2 separate regions of the Homo sapiens genome follow, and region 2 is linked to region 1. Evidence: fine-mapped expression QTL. A gene starts in region 1. The other region holds a variant in brackets. All regions are shown on one strand. Distances are from middle to middle.

Region 1 (8,743 bases):
GTTACAACTACTGATAACAATAAATTTGTGTTCTCACAAGTAAACATTTAACTTAAGTAAATATGGAAGGAATTCTTTTTAAAAAGCCAGTTCCTTCACAATCAATGACAATCTTTCTCATACATGACACAGTAACAAAAAAAAATTCAAATATCTGTACAAAGATAGCAGAACAAATTGTAATTCAAGACCTGCACAAGAATAATTTTGTAATGAAAGATAATGGTGTTAGACTCCAGTTATTAAAATTATGTGTACATATTTGGGGGTACCCATATTTTTAAATTACAGTTTTAAAATAAGTTAAAACATACTTAAAAATTTAATGCAACTCAAGCATTTTAAAACCCCAAAGAATCTTAAGGGTCCATACGAAGCAGTTTGAAAACCATTGCATAAAGGTTTGCCATCACTAATTAACTACTTGATCTCTGCTTAGGATATTTAAGATAATCAAGTTAAAAACTGCCTTTGACAATCAAAAATATGTAACACAAGAAAACTGATTAACCAAGGCATAATGTAACTAGTGGTCCACAGATAGAGCAAATACATTTTATTGGCTAAACCATATAAAGTTGCTATTACTTAACAATTTTGACTATAAAAATGAGGCTCATATAGTTCAATCTAGTATTTTTCTTTTTTTTTTTTGTCTTTTTTTTTGAGACAGAGTTTTGCTCTTGTTGCTCAGGCTGCAGTGCAGTGGCGTGACCTTGGCTCACCACAACCTTGGCTCACCACAACCTCCGCCTCCCAGGTTCAAGTGATTCTCCTGCCTCAGCCTCCTGAGTAACTGGGACTACAGGCACACGATTCCACGCCCAGCTAATTTTTGTATTTTTAGTAGATATGGGGTTTCACCATGTTGGCCAGGATGGTCTCGATCTTTTGACCTCGTGATCTGCCCACCTTGGCCTCCCAAAGTGCTGGGATTACAGGCGTAAGCCACCATGCCCGGTCCTCAATCTAGTATTTTTCATTTTGACAGTATCTTTGTTTATAAAACCATCAAAAAGATGTCAAAATATATGATCATATAACAAAGTGAAAAGTGCAATAACAATACAAAGATATATCACTATAACTATCTTAACATTAAAAAAGTTTAAATGTTAGATCCTCTAAAGAGCACAAAACTATTCATTTAAGTAGCACTAACTGCTCAATACCCAAAGTACATTGGAATATGCCACTTTTTTATTTACTGGAAGATGAGTGGACTGATAATTACCTACCTTCCTCAATGCAGTTTGACACATGACTTTTCAAATTAAAGGATTATGTTCTTCTAGTTATCACTAGAATTTCTTCAAGTAAAAGATTAAACTTAAAAACTCGTTAACTTTACAAAATAAATAGAAGCATTTCCTCTTTTATTAAAAACTTTACTGAACTACCTCATTGACAATAGAGCAAGTTAGACTTAAGAGTTAGGGATTTCAGGATAGTTTTGATGGTTAATTTATTTATGGATATGGTTTACCTCTCCATTCTTTTTACTGTCCTAAGGTTACCAAATTAGGTACATTCAATATTTTAATAAGTCTCTTTATTTTGGAGGATACTAAATCAAAACCGTAAACGGACTTCTAAGAATAAATGTAATTCTCATACAATATATAATTCAATATTCAGGCATTGGGTTAAACCATATTATTTCATTTGAAGGTGAATTCCATTCCTTGTGAAGTTCCCCTAAAATTCAACACACTGCAACAAATTAAGCCACCTACTGAGAGAATAACACTTTCTGTCCCATATAAAGGTGACCCTTCTTCCATCATTATATAGAAATATAAAAGCAAAAGTAATTCACACTGGATGAGCATGAGTTTCATTCTTCCATTATGAATTAGACTGAACAAACATTCAAAATACTATGACTCACTTGGCTACATTACTGAACACTTTATTAAATGGAAAACAAGATAAACTCTAAGAATCACATTTTGAGAGTTATAGATGACTTTTAACTTAGAGTTATATCAACAAGAAAAACATGTCTTTATTAGAAATAAACTTTTCATTGTTATTTTAAGAATGATGAAACATTTAAAATGCTACATACTGATTCTCTTAAGAGCACTTCAAAGTGGCACTCTTTAAAAAGCTGCAAATGTTGCCAAGTCATGTTATAACTGGCTCAAAGAATCCTATTTCCATTAAGTTATTTCATGCCACTGCATGAATCAATATTAAATACCTTGGAGTTACTAAAAACTGGAATACTGGCAGAGATGTGCTCAGCAATTATAAAATACGAAAATGTGAATACTCTTTTTCCACGTTTCTTTTAATAATGGCTAGAAATGAGGATGTTCTTTCTAGGTAAACAGAAATAGTTTCCTAAAAGCTAAAGGAAAGATGTAATATCTTAAATGCTAGCAAAGTGTCATGGATCCATAGCCATAGCTCTCTCAAAAGAAAAATGAAATACATTTTGAAGCCTAATATTACCTCCAAACATTTTATTAGCCTAACAAATTGCCAGAGCCATTAAAAAATTTTTTTATCAAAGTCAATACAGTGCTCTTTTTCCTTATTCAATTAAAAAGCATAACTTGCTGTCATTTTAACCAGGCTGCACTTTAATCAAACATGTCTTAAATGACACATTTTTTCATGTCAAAGACATAACATAAATTTAAAAATTAAGAAATAAATTTTTTTGAAAGCTAAGTTCAGATGACATCTGGCCCTGCAGTGAAAGAGTTAACATCCAACTAAGCTGATCTGCACTTCTGATCCATTACATTTCTCACAAGCTACCCTACAATGAGCTGAGCAAGTATCAACTGTAATTTGATCCTAGAGTTTATGGAAAAAAATAACTGCACATACTCAACATGCACATTTAATAAAAATCTGTTTCAAGAGAAACATATCCAATAAACACAATTTAAGGCATATTTAACTGTTCAATTAACCTCAAATCTGCAATCCCTTTGCTCTCACGCTCTCAAATAAAATAGGAAGAAAAAAAAAAGCAGCAGCCCTACTGCAGGGAAAAGAGGCTTGAAAAACAACTTTGATTGGCACTTGGCCTGACCCACAGAGGAAGAAAAACAGTTTTTGGACAAAGAGCGCAAATATTTGAGCTTGCTTACTTATGTGCTTTTTTCTTTCTTCCTTTTTTAAAAAAAAATGTAGAAAGAACAATCCCAAAGTGAACCGTATTTAGAGATGTTGACTAAAAACGGTACCATATTCATCTCCGCTTTCAGTCCCGATGCATTTGCACAGCTCAGCAATTTTAATTCATTTGTAGTGAACAAACAGAAGCATCTCACCTAACGTTTCCACTTAATAAAATGTAAAAATAGAGTTTGAATACGAATAAACTGATTATAATATTACTTTGGGGCAGCTGTTAAAATCTGATCAAAAAGTCTAGAGACCTTTTTTTCATTCCCTTCCCCATCCCTCTCGCCCTTCCCCGCGGGGCGATTAAGCCAAGTAAGCTAAACAATACTGGAGTAAACTTTCTATCAGTCACTCTAGGAAGCAGCAATAAACTGATGGTGCGCCTCATTTTTCTGGATCAACACGGGGGCAGGGGGGTGCTAAGGAGGAATAACCCACATCCACCTCAGTCTTCTCCTCCCCCAACCCCAGCCTCAGGAACTGGCCAGGTCGAATTGCATTTCCCATGGGCATAAAGTTCAAGATGCTTTACTGGTTCCTTTCGAGACTGAACTACAGACACAGGACTACCATCCAAACAATTTGAAAACGGGGGTTGTTGAGCAAGGCGCGCAAGGCAGAAGCAACCGAATAAACAAAAACAACACTCGCAAGAGTTAGCCACAGCAAAGAGGGGCCAGGTTCCTCGGGATCCGACCCAGCTGCTCTGATTTCACACCGACCTCCATCAACAGCTAAACTGCACAGGGAGGAGGATCGAACGGATCCCTCCCGCCCTCCGCCCAAGGAGCCGACCCGGGGTAGCAAGGTAGGGAAATGAGCCGTAAAGGAGAGCAAAGGCACCAAATAAAAGGAACAAGGGAAGAAAAAATATCCCAACCCCTCCAGACTTGGGTCTGTCCCGGCGGAAATAAAAAGCCGCAGTAGTCCAAACCCTCCTGCCCTCAACCCACGCCCCCTTTCTCAGTCCCTGCGGAGGGACGGTGCCCGGGGATCCCTCTCAGCCTCCCCCAGTGCGCGCCCGGGGACGAGCCGCCCGAGCCCCGGCCGGCAGGAAGCGACCCTCGCCGGCAGGACCCCGGGCCGAACCCGTACCTTCCGCAGCACTTTCCGGCAGTTGGTACAGAGCAGGTAGTTGGCGGCGGCCGACGGGCTGCCGCCGCCCCGGTTCATCGTGGCTGCGGGCGCCGAGGCGAGAGCGGGCGGAGGGCCGGGTCCGGGCTGTCACTGCGGCCACTGCAGGGCCGGTCCGTCCCCCCGCCGCCAGCCGCGATTCCGCCTCAGCCTCCTCAAGGCGGGATGTCGGGAGGAGAGGCGACTGCCTGAAAGCTAGCGGCACTGCCAGAGGCGACCACCGCGGCAGCTGCCCCAGCGACGGCGGAGACGGCGGCGGCTGCTCCTCACCGGCCCGTTGTTCCACCCGCCCCCATCTTCCAGACCCCCGCCCCCGCCAGGCTAGGACGAGCAGCCGCCACCGCTGCCACCGCCACCACCGCCGCCGCAGCGCCTCAGTGCGGCCCCGCCTCCGCCGCCCCACCACCTTCACCACCTCCACGCTCCGGTACCGCCCCTCCCGCCAATCGGACAGCTCCGGCTACGCCCCCAGGGCGCTAGCCCGCAGCCAATGAGCAACGAGAGCCCGACTGGGAGTCGCGCCGGCCAATCGCAGGGGCCGAGGAAGCCTTGAATCTCCGGGCAAGTTAAGTTTATCTCCGAGGCTCGGAACTGAAGGGAGGTGGCGGTTAGCTAAGTAGTAGGGTAGCAGGGAACAGTTTGCTCTCCTCTGCCAATAAGAGGACGAGGGTGTGTCATATGCAAATATACTGCCCTCCAAGCCCCACCCCCAAGATAAGCTACGCCCCCTTCTCTAGGTCCCTGCAGAAGTGGTGAGGAGAATGAGATAAATAGTTGGGAGCTAGAGCTCGCTAGAGAGTCTAAGATTGAGCTAAATATTTCCTGATCTCTCGAGAAAGGGGGAGGGGAGTGGGAGGATTAAATGTTCCTTCCTTCAGGGCAGTGGTTAGGCTTTCTCTCCACCAAAATCTAACTTTAGCTGTAAAGAAGACTGCAGTTATGTAGTACTTTGTATCCAGGGATCTCAAAGAACTTTACGCATCATTTATTGTGAACCTTGTTTTGCAAAGATTTCAGTTACTTGAGGCTTGGGAGGCGGATAGGGGATAAATGTCTGAGTTATATATATATTTACGCAAGTAATCGAGTTTGAGGGGAGAGACACAAAACCTCTGGTTTAGCGGTTTCCTCTTGTTTGTGAAGCACCTTCTAGCAGTTATCTTAGAGATGTAAGTTCATTTACTTGTCCAGCACTAAAAGGCCAAAGGGGCTTGTTTTCTCACCCAAAAGACCTTCCTGAGGCAGCTGTTCGGATACATGCAGAGCACAGCGCCCTGCTCAGAAAGGAAGGTTCAGAGAACAAATTGTCGTTTAAAACTATTGGGACAAACCTACCTCTTCTAAAGCTTAAAATGGTAAGTCAGGGTTTTAGCGTCCACGTTCTGCGGAGAGAAGGCAGACTTGACTGGGGAAAGCGCAGGCTGACCGAGTGTGGCGGGACAGACGGGTAGGGGAGCCAGGTCTCCCGAAGGGGCTAGCAATGCGCGTCCGAGTCGAATGCGGGTTCCCGATGCTAGACGCCCGCAACCTGCTCCCGAGTGAGAACAAAGGCCGGCGCAGAGCGAGAACCTGATTGGTGCCCGGTCCTCACTCGTGTCCTCCGGGCCCCAGAGATAACTTGCATCGCCTACTGGCAAGGAGCTCTGTGCTCACTGGAGCCCAGCTCCCCACCCGGCCATGGCCGTGGCCACAGGACTGTGCATTATGACATCACCTGTTTTCGATTTTTAGAACCTAATCAGTATTCTCGGCTTCTCCCTTTTTAAAGGTCTCCAGCGTACCAGGATTTGTGAAGGCCTGAAGTTCGTAGAATGAAATCTATGTGGAGATGATTTAAAAGAACGGTTTCACTGGTTTGCATTTCTTTCTTTTCTTTTTAATTAAAAAAAAACAACAACCCTGGTTTCCTTAGGGATTCAGGGTGGTGTTATGCAAAATCGGAAAGGTACACTTGGAGGAGCTAGCAAGTTTAGCATATCAAAGCTATTAGACCAATTTGTGCGGTTAAAACTGCCATTCTCATTTCTCAACAGCTGTCTCCTCTCTGTCCCTTTTTAGAGACCAACACATATAAACCAAGTCTACACAAGAAACAAAGGTAATGGAAATCTGCTAGTATCAGGTTTAAATAGATCAAAATAGAGTAGAAAACCCCAAAAGGGTCTAAGTTATGTAGTTGGGTAAAGGTGTTGATCTATTTAGCCAGTGTTAGCTAAAGGTCGCTTGATGCTGTGTAGACATACATAACTAAAGAGCAATGAATGGTGTGGGGAAGGTGCTTAAGATTCAGTTAGAAGAAACTGTAAAAGCAAGTAAATTCAGAAAAGGAGGGAATTACCACATGCCCTTCGATGCAGAGAACCAAGAAATGCAGGGAGAAAGTCAGCAAGGCACAGTTTTTCTAAGAAACACATATGTGTCCCCATTTAGTGGTAAATTTCTTGGGCTATATTCCTGGCTGGTTCTGGCTTTTAAAGCAGATTTTATGTGAGTACATTTTAAAGGAAAGGAGAAATTGAAGGATGAAGTGAATTTTTGTGCAGATTGAATTTTCTCAAATAGAATTTTAAATTCATATTGTTTTCTAGCACATTCTTCTTATAACCTTTTCTTTTCTTTTTTCACTTGACAGCTAAAATCCTTTCGAAATGAGTTCCTTTAAGTTCTTCAGTAACTAAATCCTCCAGAAAGGAAAGCCGAGAGAATCTAGTCCTATACAATAACACCCTCTAACAAAGATCGCTAAAGGAAGATTTTAGTAGATGAATATCTTCAATAATACATGGTCACATACATGTATCTGACCATATGATGGCTCTCTGCACCAAATTCCTCCAAACTATTATAATATGTATTGTCTGTAGTGCTATTTATTTGGCAGTTAATCATGTATTACATTGTGACATTTCTTACAGTGAACCATTATGTATGTGTTTATGTTCTGCCCTCAACTACTCAATGCCAGTACCTTATTCTTAACACAGCAACCACCCTTTCTGGTCTGTCCTCACACCCTCATTCCCATCATAGTTATTCTCCTCTCTCATGGAAATGTTCAGTTTCTGGACATCTCCTTTCTCTTCCATTCTTCACCTGACCTTCCTTCCTTTCTTGGCCAGCCTGAATATTATAAAGGGAATTTTATTTCAAACCCAGGATCGCACTTAAGAGGAAAAGAAACAAAAGCCAGTTCTTTTTATTGCACATAGAACAAGGAGAAACTCCACCCCTTTTGTTGTCTGGTATGTTTAAAACAAGAAAGAACTTTAGAAAAGTAGGATATGAGTGAAAATTACAACCAATGTTGAGAACTACTTTTTAATTTTTTATTACAAAATTAGGATGATACTTCATTAAACATTGTACATCATTTCAAAACTGTTATCTCATAATCATGTTGCTTGTTTTGAATTATTCTTTTAAAGTGTAATTTTTTTAAGCAAAGAATCCATAAAATTACATGGCTTGGATGTACCATAACTTACTTAATCCTTATGCTATTGTTTAATATGTGGGTTGTTTCAGATTTTTCATGATTGTAAATAACAAAATAAACTTCCTTATACTTAAGTTTCTGGCAGAATCTCTGATTCCTAGGCCTGGAATTTCTGAGTAAAAGGGTATACATATGTCTTAAGGCTCATGGTGCAACTTGCTATAATATTTTGTGGAAAGATTTGAATAAGAACACAGGTGAGAGCAATCATTTGAAAGCTATCATTCTGCATAAGGCCCATCAGTATTCCACCTACCTCTACCTTAATCCCTTTCCCTTCTTCCTTCTGCCTGGTGAATATCTTCTGTTGAAACACTTCCTGAATCAAGCACTTGTCCAAGCATCCATAGTGCCCCTCTATACCTCTTCTTTACCAAAAAGCTCACTAGGGAAATGGTAGGTTTAACTCCTGTTTTCTCATTAGACTTCAAACCCCTTGAAGGCAGGGATAGAGTAACATTTACTTTGTATCCTTGGCTCCTAGCTCAACTGATAGGGAAGTGCTCAAAAAAATTTTGGAGAAAGTAATGAGTTTCACTCTTTATAAAAGCACCCCAATAAATGTGAATTGAATTGTTCAGAAAAATCCACTGCTTTGAAGCAGAGAGATTAGGCTCATGTTCTTACCTGTCACCAATCCTTCTCTGACATTGAATGTATTAACTATTATGGGTTGGGCATCATTCTCTCTTTTATCAAATGAAAGTTGTTACCACAAACCAGAGGTGTAGGAAGGGTTGAAGGAAAATTTTTGTGTTTAGCATGTTTGATTGAAGTTACCCTGTTAATAATATGCTGTGACTTTGGACTTGAAATTGTTTACTTCTTTAAATATTCTCATTCTATTGACCAAAGAACTGAGTTCCTCTATAGTTTCAAAATAAGGAGTTAATTGAGAAAAATCAGTTACTAAAGATATTTTTAAAACTCCATTTCTTGAGACAATAGGTCACTTTCTAACATTTT
Region 2 (8,743 bases), 57 kb before region 1:
ATTCTGATTACATAAATTAGGTAACTTAAAACTCAATCTGAGCAGAGGAGCCACGACTTTCAGCCTGCTGTTGAATTGTGCTACTAAGCAAATGTGATATACTATTTACATAACAAACATTATTGTTATGTACTGTTTAGTCCATGTTAAGACCATCTCTTTGCATAAAAGCAGTTCTATTAAAGAGAAGAATTTAAGGTCTTGCTTTCCAGAGAAATGATTTAGAATTGTCTTTAAAATACAACCTAAAACACCTTATTTTGCTAACACAGTGCAAATCATTTTTATAATATGCACTGAAATTTATTTTTTCCATGAGGAATTGTCCTTAGAGTTCAAAAGAATCTTACCATCATATAGGCATGCACCCTCCCTCCACTAAAAATGGTGTACTATTTTAAGTACAGATCTTTAATTGTTGATCATTTTATTTTGCTGTGGCACAGAAATCTAAGATTTTGGATTTAAAAAAAAACTTTATAAGGGGGAAAAGGAAAAAGTTGCTCTGGAATAATAATTAGCTTTTAGAAGCATTTAAGATCTTTAGGAGACATTATAACAACTAAATAGGAGCTCTGGTTCAAATTTTATAGGATTCTTATATAAAACTTATATTGAGTTTTCTGTTGTAAAAACAGCCCTGTGTTTCTCTGCCATTATTTGGGCTTACAACCATAATTAAAGGCCAAGGCTATGCCCCAGATTCCATGTTAGCCATCTTTTATTTTAAAAATACCCCAAATGGGACAAATTCATACTGGGACTGAGACAATGTACTTAGTTCAAAAAGGGGAAGGAGGTAATAAGCTGTCTCAAAAGCCTCTTTTCCCCTAATAGTCATATATCCACCTGAGGAAGCCTCGTCTGAAGAAGCCAGTGAGGCACCTGCCTGGCTACTCCCATAGTCAGGTGGGTTAAAGAACAGATTATTTTCAGGTGGGAGAGTATCTCAATATTTCTTAAGGTGATCTGAGAAATTATAAATTACCATTGAAGCTGGAAATCTTGAAATTCCAAAGTAAATAGACATTATTCAAGCATACACATCAGTGGACTATGAAGACTAATTTTAACATAATAAGCAAAGAATTAAAGAATTCACATTCACATGTGCTTTTCTCACGTACACTTGCACATTTAAGTTTGGCACAATGTGAGCGCAAGGTGTAGATCAGCATATTGCATAATCACGTCATTATACCAATTGAACCAGATATCTCTTTTAAAAATATCACATTTTAATATAAAAAGCTATACTATAAATTACTAAATAGTAAATTCAATACTCTGAAAAAATACCACCCTGGAAAACCGCATCAGAATTTCAAGTTTGCATTGGATAAAGAGAGTTAACAGCAAACTCGTTGTAAAATGGTATTCACAACCTGAAATGCTGTGCATGCTGCGTATTAGTAGGTGCTTTAGCACCTGCAGAAGTCAATTTTTCTAGGCTGGTTCACTGAGGTTCATAAATATATGGTGTTGTTTTTGTTTATAGTTCCAAGTCAACTTATTTTCCTATTGATAAGATAGATCAATGCTGAGCTAAAAAGAAACTTTGCAAGGAAAGAGATCTATTAAAGGCACTAATATTTCCATAGCCTAAACTCCAACTACTTACATTTCCAGGGAAAAAAATAAACACAAACTAAGTGGCCATTTTAGTTACTTAAACCTTGTTTCCCCTTTTGGTCTAAAGCTCATATGGTGTTCTGTGAGAATTTCTCCTCCTTTTCAATACATACAAATCATTTTTTATCCTGTTATACAGTTCGCCTGCACAAAAATATAGGGCTATTAATTGAAAGCATCTAGTAAAAAAACAAATTCAAGAATAAATGACATCCTCAACTTGAAAGTTGTGAAGTTAGGTAAGTCAAATGGACATTTATGTTGCCATTTGTGTTTTGCCATTCTCCTAAATATTTTCTTTGTATTACATATCTACATAATGTAATATTGAATAAAAGTTAACATATGGCATATGCAATAAAACAGACGAGATATGGCACAAGTTCTCTGAATAATCTCTTTAAATAAACCACCCTGTCTTTAAAAATATTAGTAATTTTTTCCTCACATGGAAGATTTCAAACAGGATCCTGGAATCCAAAAATGCAGAACTACCTTATGTTAATAAGTATACAGTCATATTTGTTTTCCTATCTGGAACAAAATCTAAAAGAAAGCAACCCAATATATTGTACCAGAGGAGGATGATAAATGGAAGAGGAAAATGATTTCATGAAACACTAGTTCACGATTCTTTCACAAAAGAAAAGTTAAATCTTATATCACAAGTAAGTCTAAAATGAAATATTTGCGGGAACTCTAACAGAAAATTTTATCTATATTATTTACTATGAAAAATGGATAAGTTTTCAAAAATTAGCATGTATGTGTACAATTCAAGTCACCCTTAACTAACCAAAAAGTGTTTAAAAAGCAGTGCAGTTGTGTCCTACTGGATAGTTGTAAGCATCTCTTTAGGCACTTCACTGGTTCATTGACATAATACAAATTAAAGCTATAAACACATAATGTGCTCTCTGAAGATAGTCTAATCAAGCAACGTAAACCAATGCAAAAATGTGACTTTTTGGCCGCTTATTCCTCCCCTATGACTTAATAACGTTTTTAAACCAGTTGTCCAAGGAGATTTTTCTGGGGAAGGGAATGCTTTGGCATTATGAAAGGAACATTGTTCAATCCCAGAAAGGTAAAACTGAAAAAAGCCTGTGCAATAAAGAAATTTGAAAAAAATTTCTTTATGGCTCTGTTTAAAAGGACACTTTTGCAGTGATATGACAGGGGGAAAGTTTAGTTGAGTATTTTTTGAACATATTGCACTCTGTTTTTGTAGTTCAATCACATTAATGCATAGAAACACAATTTTTACCTTTGAAAAATAAACTGTCTAACCTATTATAAGAACAAAAGTCATGGAAAATAATTTCTAAAAGCCTAACAGGAAAAATAGGCATATTAACCTTCCTTTGCTTAACGAAATATAGAAAAAAACTATGAGAAAGGAAAAATGTGCAAAGAAAATTTTTGGTCAGTCTTGTGTGGGTACAGGTTTATATGTGCCAACTAAATGAACTGTAAGCAGCACTGTGAGCACTGATTATTTAAGGTGACTGAGGATTACTGTCAGTGATAGGATTGTGTTATAATTCCACTTATATACATCTGATATGGAAAACTGAAACTTCCATTTTAGAAGAGAAAGAAAATAGCTGAATTTGGCATTTCAGTAGCATGCTATAGAATTCATCATGATTAATTTCACATTAAATTATGGGCAATAGCTGTATCACATTTCATGTTATCGCCAATAGCAGTAAAACAACAATAAATGAACAAACAAACAAATAAAAAACAGTGCCTGACAAATAATCTCCTGGGGACACAAATATGTGTCCAGTGAGCAGCTTGGTTCAACAGCGCATGCTTTTCCTCCACCAGATTTAGGACACAACATTAAAGTTTTAGAATGGCCAGAGAGGTCACTCTTTGCTGAATTCCAATATCTGAAAAACAATTGCTTGAGCAGATTGTAAGCACTTGTCCTTATTCTTAAAAAAAAAAGGGCGGGGTGGGGGGAGAAAAAATACACATACACACAACCCAAAGGCGCTGAAGTTAAGCATTAATACGCCAGATTCATGATTTATGATCAGTATCCAAAACTCCAACTACAAACAATGCAAAGTAGTGCTCCTCAGTATTATTTTTGCAATTGTTAGTAATGTTAAGCATCAAGGAAAATAAAACACATCATTGCACATTACAGCCGCAAAAAACAAA[A/C]AAAAAAAAACAAACGGCTAAACTTTGACACTAGAGAACTGAATAATTTTTGATGCTATATCACAAATAGCTTCAATGTTTATCTTATGTGAAAGGTCTTTACACATGTATGACATTTTCCTTGGGTGATACTTCAGGTCAAATGCCGAGTTATGGCACGAAGAGCATAAAGAAGTTCAGCTTGCATTCGTGCTTCCATTAAAAGTAGATTGACATGAACCTAGAAGTGAAAATGTTATCAGTTTAGTAACCATTATAAACACCTGGAAAATCTTATTAGACATTCACAAAGGTTTTTTTATGTGTATATAAGCAATATACACACACACACACACCTAGGCATATTTATCCATGTTCATGATGCAACACTCAAACCTGTGTCTAATGGCTCTGCAAGCAGTAAAAATAACCCATAAAATCTAAAAAATTCTGATAACTTTATTAAAGTTGTTATTTTTGTAAAGTCAATCTGTTGGGTTATAAAATAAAACTAATTTTTATAAATTATAATTTTCCTACAAATTACATTTCTTTCTAGTTATAAAATTTTACATGGCTAAAAATCAGCCCTCATTTTTTTTTTTAACAGTTTATGCTTATCCTGTGAAAAGCTTTAAAAAATTTTTCCTAGTATTTACTTAAAAGATACTAAAGTGAAAATCTGATGTTTAAAGTTTCTGATTAGTGTTTGATACTTGTTAGACATACATAGCTTCCCTAGAGTCTTTCAGATAAAATTCTGCAGAACATTTCTTTCGGGGTTACATCTCGGCTGATAAGTTAAAATGGGTATCCACAAGTTTTCAAAATTTACTATAAAAATATGTTTTAATATTATATTCTTTTGATATATTTATACCAGTTGGATATGTGGTTGGATATATTCTCCTGAAGAGTAAAGAGAATTTCTAGATACAATCTAGAAAAGGAAGAAAATCTAGAGCAAACATATAAATATGGGATAAAGACCCATCAAGGGGAAATGCTGGATGTAAAATGGGTATTTACCTGATGTGAGTGGCTCTAAGACTTCAAAAAATCTGTTAGGTACTGAAGCCATAACATTCTCTGCTAAGATCATACAGTTTATTAGCGAATGTTTCCTAAAAAGATTTTCTTACTTTCAAGCTTCGAAACTGTTGTATAAAGGAGATTCTTGAACTTAAAGGTTAAAAGTCCTAGGACTTAAGGCCAGCTCTTATACTATGATGTTGATAAAGATCCTTAACATTTATTAGGTTTTCTAACTTCATGTTGCCTATATATTTCTTTCAAATAAATATTTTTATGTAACAGTATATTTGGCTCAAAGGTCCTGAATTATACTGTCAAAACACTAAATTACCAAGTTTGGGTAAAAATCTATTGTCTTTTTTTCGAGAGATGAAGTCTTGCTCTGTTGCCCAGGCTGGAGTGCAGTGGAGTGATCTCGGCTCACTGCAACCTCTGCCTCCTGGGTTCAAGCGATTCTCCTGCCTCAGATTCCCAAGTAGCTGGGACAACAGGCATGCACAACCATGCCCAGCTAATTTTTGTATTTTTTAGTAGAAATGGGGTTTCACTACATGTTGGCCTGGCTAGTTTTGAACTCCTGACCTCAGGTGATCCCCCCACCTCGGCCTCCCAAAGTGCTAGGATTACAGGCGGGAGCCACTGCACCCAGCCACTATCTGGGTTTTTAAAATATTTTTTTAATTCAGATTTATTGACTAGTAACCCAATTTTGGTTATATGCTTTGTTCAATATAGCATATAAAAGTTTATCGTAAGCCTTAGAAATACTAGATCTGAGTACTGATATCTTCAAAGCACATTTGGAAAACTGTCTACAGTTCTAACTATTAATAAAAATCAGACATACTGAAATGTTGTATTAGGTATAATTGTATTTTGGCCCAGAAGGCACATCCATTTCGAGATTCTTTAACCACTAAAGTTAACCTATTAAGACAACGGTTTCTGCTGGGCACAGTGGCTCCTGCCTGTAATCCCAGCACTTTGGGAAGCCGAGGTGGGCAGATCACCTGAGGTCAGGAGTTTGAGACCAGTCTGACTAACATGGTGAAACCCCACCTCTACTAAAAATACAAAAATTAGCCAGGCGTGGTGGCAGGCACCTGTAATCTCAGCTACTCGGGAGGGTGAGGCAGAAGAATCACTTGAACCCGGGAAGTGGAGGTTGCAGTGAGCTGAGATCGTGCCACTGCATTCCAGCCTGGCAAACAAACAAGCAAAAAAACCCCAGATAGCTAGATGATGCCACTTCCATGTCAATGGCTATAATTTATTAATACTTTCATGTGTCATTTTTCATAACTATTACTTCTTGTACTGAAGAACTGTCTATGGTATAATGCTTAATACTGAAACACGTACTTTTTCTGAGTGTTTGAACTGCCGCCAGTAACTATCATACATGCGTTTTGTAGTTCTCTCAGGATAGCAGGTCACTGTCTTAATGTAAACCTTCAGGCTTCTTTCAAGTAATTGATTAACTTCTCCATAATCATAGTCATCATACCTACGAGCAATACAACAATAGCTTTATAATGACAAAATCAAAATATTTAGTTTCCAAAGTTATACTAAGGACATTTATTGTCTAGTAATTAAATACTAAAAGCTCGTTAATTAATTGAATCAACAAATGTTTACTGAGTACCCATTATGTGCCATGAGTACTCAGTAGTAGTGATATACTAGTGAACAAAACAGACAAAAATCCTTGGTCTCATGGAGCTTAAATTTTGTTGAAGAAAAAACGAAGAAAAATTAAAAAGATAAACACATTGTAGTCAGATGGTGATAACTGCCATGGAGAGGAAATGGAACTTGGTCTGGGAGGAGAGGAGTTGTTATTTTAAATAGGGTGGGCAGGAAGGCTTCTCTGAAAGCCTTGATATTTGAACAAATACCAGATGGTGGTAAAGAAGCAAGTGTAAAGGACTTGAGGTAGGAGTCAAGTGTTTCAGGGAAGAGCAAGTAATCACTGAGTCCCATGCTGCCAAATAGTCAAATAAGATAACTGGGAACTGACCACTGGAAGTAGCTATATGGAGGTCACTAGCAACCTCGGTAAGAGCAGTTTTGTTGGTTGATAGGGACAAAAGCCTGATACTGTGAATAGGTTCAAGAGAGAATGGGAGATAAGAAAATAGTGACAGTAAATATACACAATTTTGTCAGAGATTTGCTTCGCACGAAAGCAGAAAATGAGGCAGTAGCCAGATGGAAATGAAAGGTGAAACTGAAATTTTCTTTAAAGATGGGAGAAATTAAGTGTGTTTCAATGCTGATGGGAAAGATCCAAAATGGGAGTAAAGCTGATTATGCTGGAGAGAGAAGGGAGCATTGCTAGAACTGAGATCTTTAGAAAATGAGAAATGGGATTTTGTGCATAAGTGTATAGGAACATAGACAGTAATGACAGCAGAGTAAATGGGCACAGATGTAGACAGGTAGGTAAATGTAGTATTGGGAACTTGTGGAATTTCTCTGTTACATTTTCAGTTAATTTTTAACCCATATAATGCTTAGTTTAATAAAAAGAGTATCTTGATGCATTTATGTAAGCTTTATTTTGTAGCATCCAACAGATATATTCACCACATTTGTTGCCTTGTATCCAATACATATTTATTGCATTTAAATTGAGTTTTATCGGTGTTTATTTTTCTTAAGTAGGTAGATATGATATATATGTGTTTTAAAATGTATTGATTCTTTGATAACATTGTCTAGCATGGTAAATGGACAAATAGCTCAGTTATTACATACAACCATAATCTATTACATGGAATATCGTGTTATTAGGCGATTTATCAGTAAATTTTGGGGTTCTTCAGCTAAAATTATAGAAAATACTTTGCTTAACCGATTAAATTCTAATTATCATAAAGTCTGTCTGATATATATCTATATAGTCAAGTTGAATAATTTGTAACTGGAAAGTTTTTCTGTCTGCTAATCTATTTCCATAAAAGCCTCAAAACCACAACTCAAAAAGGCACATTCTCCAAAAAGTGCTTTCTTGATTAGACTATTCAATCTCATGTACTTACTGTCCTCTCAATGCTAATTTTCTAAATTTAGAGGTCATTAATTTATATTGGCTGATATATTTAATTTCAGTGTTATGTGACCTTATGTAAGCTTATGAAGGCACAACCTAGTACAGTTTTGTTTATACCGTAATTACCATTCCTTAAAAAATAAGTTTTAAAAAGACCAAACTAACTAAACAAACCAGAATTTATTATAGTGATCTAAAGGGACACTACACCTGTTTTTTTAAAACTCACCTGTTCTTCCAGGAAGGATTCTCAAATTTGGTCTAATTCTATCCTATCCCCAATCATTACTGATGCTTTTTTCCCTCAGTAAATTTTTACCACTATATTTACATGTGCATCAATGTTAAGATTCATAACACTTAAAGAAAAATGCTTCTCCATAAAATGAAATTAATTTTTAAAATCAGAAGTCTACATGTAATATTTTCTTCCCAGAGTCATATACTCCCAAACAGGACAAAAATAAGACTCATGCTTGAATTTTCACTTAGAAATGTAAAAAACTGTCTCTACAATGAACATACCTGATTCCAAACATACAGTGAACATAGTTAAATAAAGCTCTGCGCAGCATGGTTGTGTCAACATCCTCATGGGTGGCCATAGTGTTATATGTGAGATTGTAGACCATCCGAAACTTTTCATCAAGAAGATGTCCAATGTCAGAATAAAGTCTGTTCACCAGGGAGAACCCATGATTTTCCCAGGTATAGTCCTAAAAGAATAAAATGTATTTAATTACAAAGTGGGCATTTTCCATCTAAATTCTATGTATTATTAAATATAACTAATGAAGCAAGTAAGCGAGGCTATTTCTAATTTAGCTCTAGGTTTTCAGCTTTACTAAGGCTTTACCAATA

The links. PIP is the estimated chance that this variant, and not a neighbour inherited with it, causes the effect.
Region 2: its variant is fine-mapped to the expression of SESN3 in whole blood (TOPMed, PIP above 0.99). The same link has a PIP of 0.9 or more in lung.

Annotation. Positions count from the first base shown.
Region 1 is chr11:95,226,541-95,235,283 of GRCh38, forward strand. It overlaps SESN3 (sestrin 3), which reads right to left and starts at 4,662. Exons shown (of 10, transcript NM_144665.4): 1 at 4,243-4,662. The coding sequence starts at 4,320. It overlaps LOC100129203 (a long non-coding RNA gene), which reads left to right and starts at 3,646. Exons shown (of 6, transcript NR_110295.2): 1 at 3,646-3,955; 2 at 4,585-5,033; 3 at 5,512-5,636; 4 at 6,050-6,134; 5 at 6,340-6,379; 6 at 6,914-7,864. RefSeq lists silencers at 4,216-4,525, 4,536-4,685 and enhancers at 5,041-5,680, 5,681-6,320.
Region 2 is chr11:95,169,312-95,178,054 of GRCh38, forward strand. It overlaps SESN3 (sestrin 3), which reads right to left. Exons shown (of 10, transcript NM_144665.4): 8 at 8,408-8,598; 9 at 6,187-6,331; 10 at 1-4,030. The coding sequence ends at 3,944. Among named protein-coding and RNA genes, the nearest start is that of LNCRNA-IUR, 23 kb to the left of the region's middle. The variant A/C (reference allele first, on the strand shown) is at 3,811.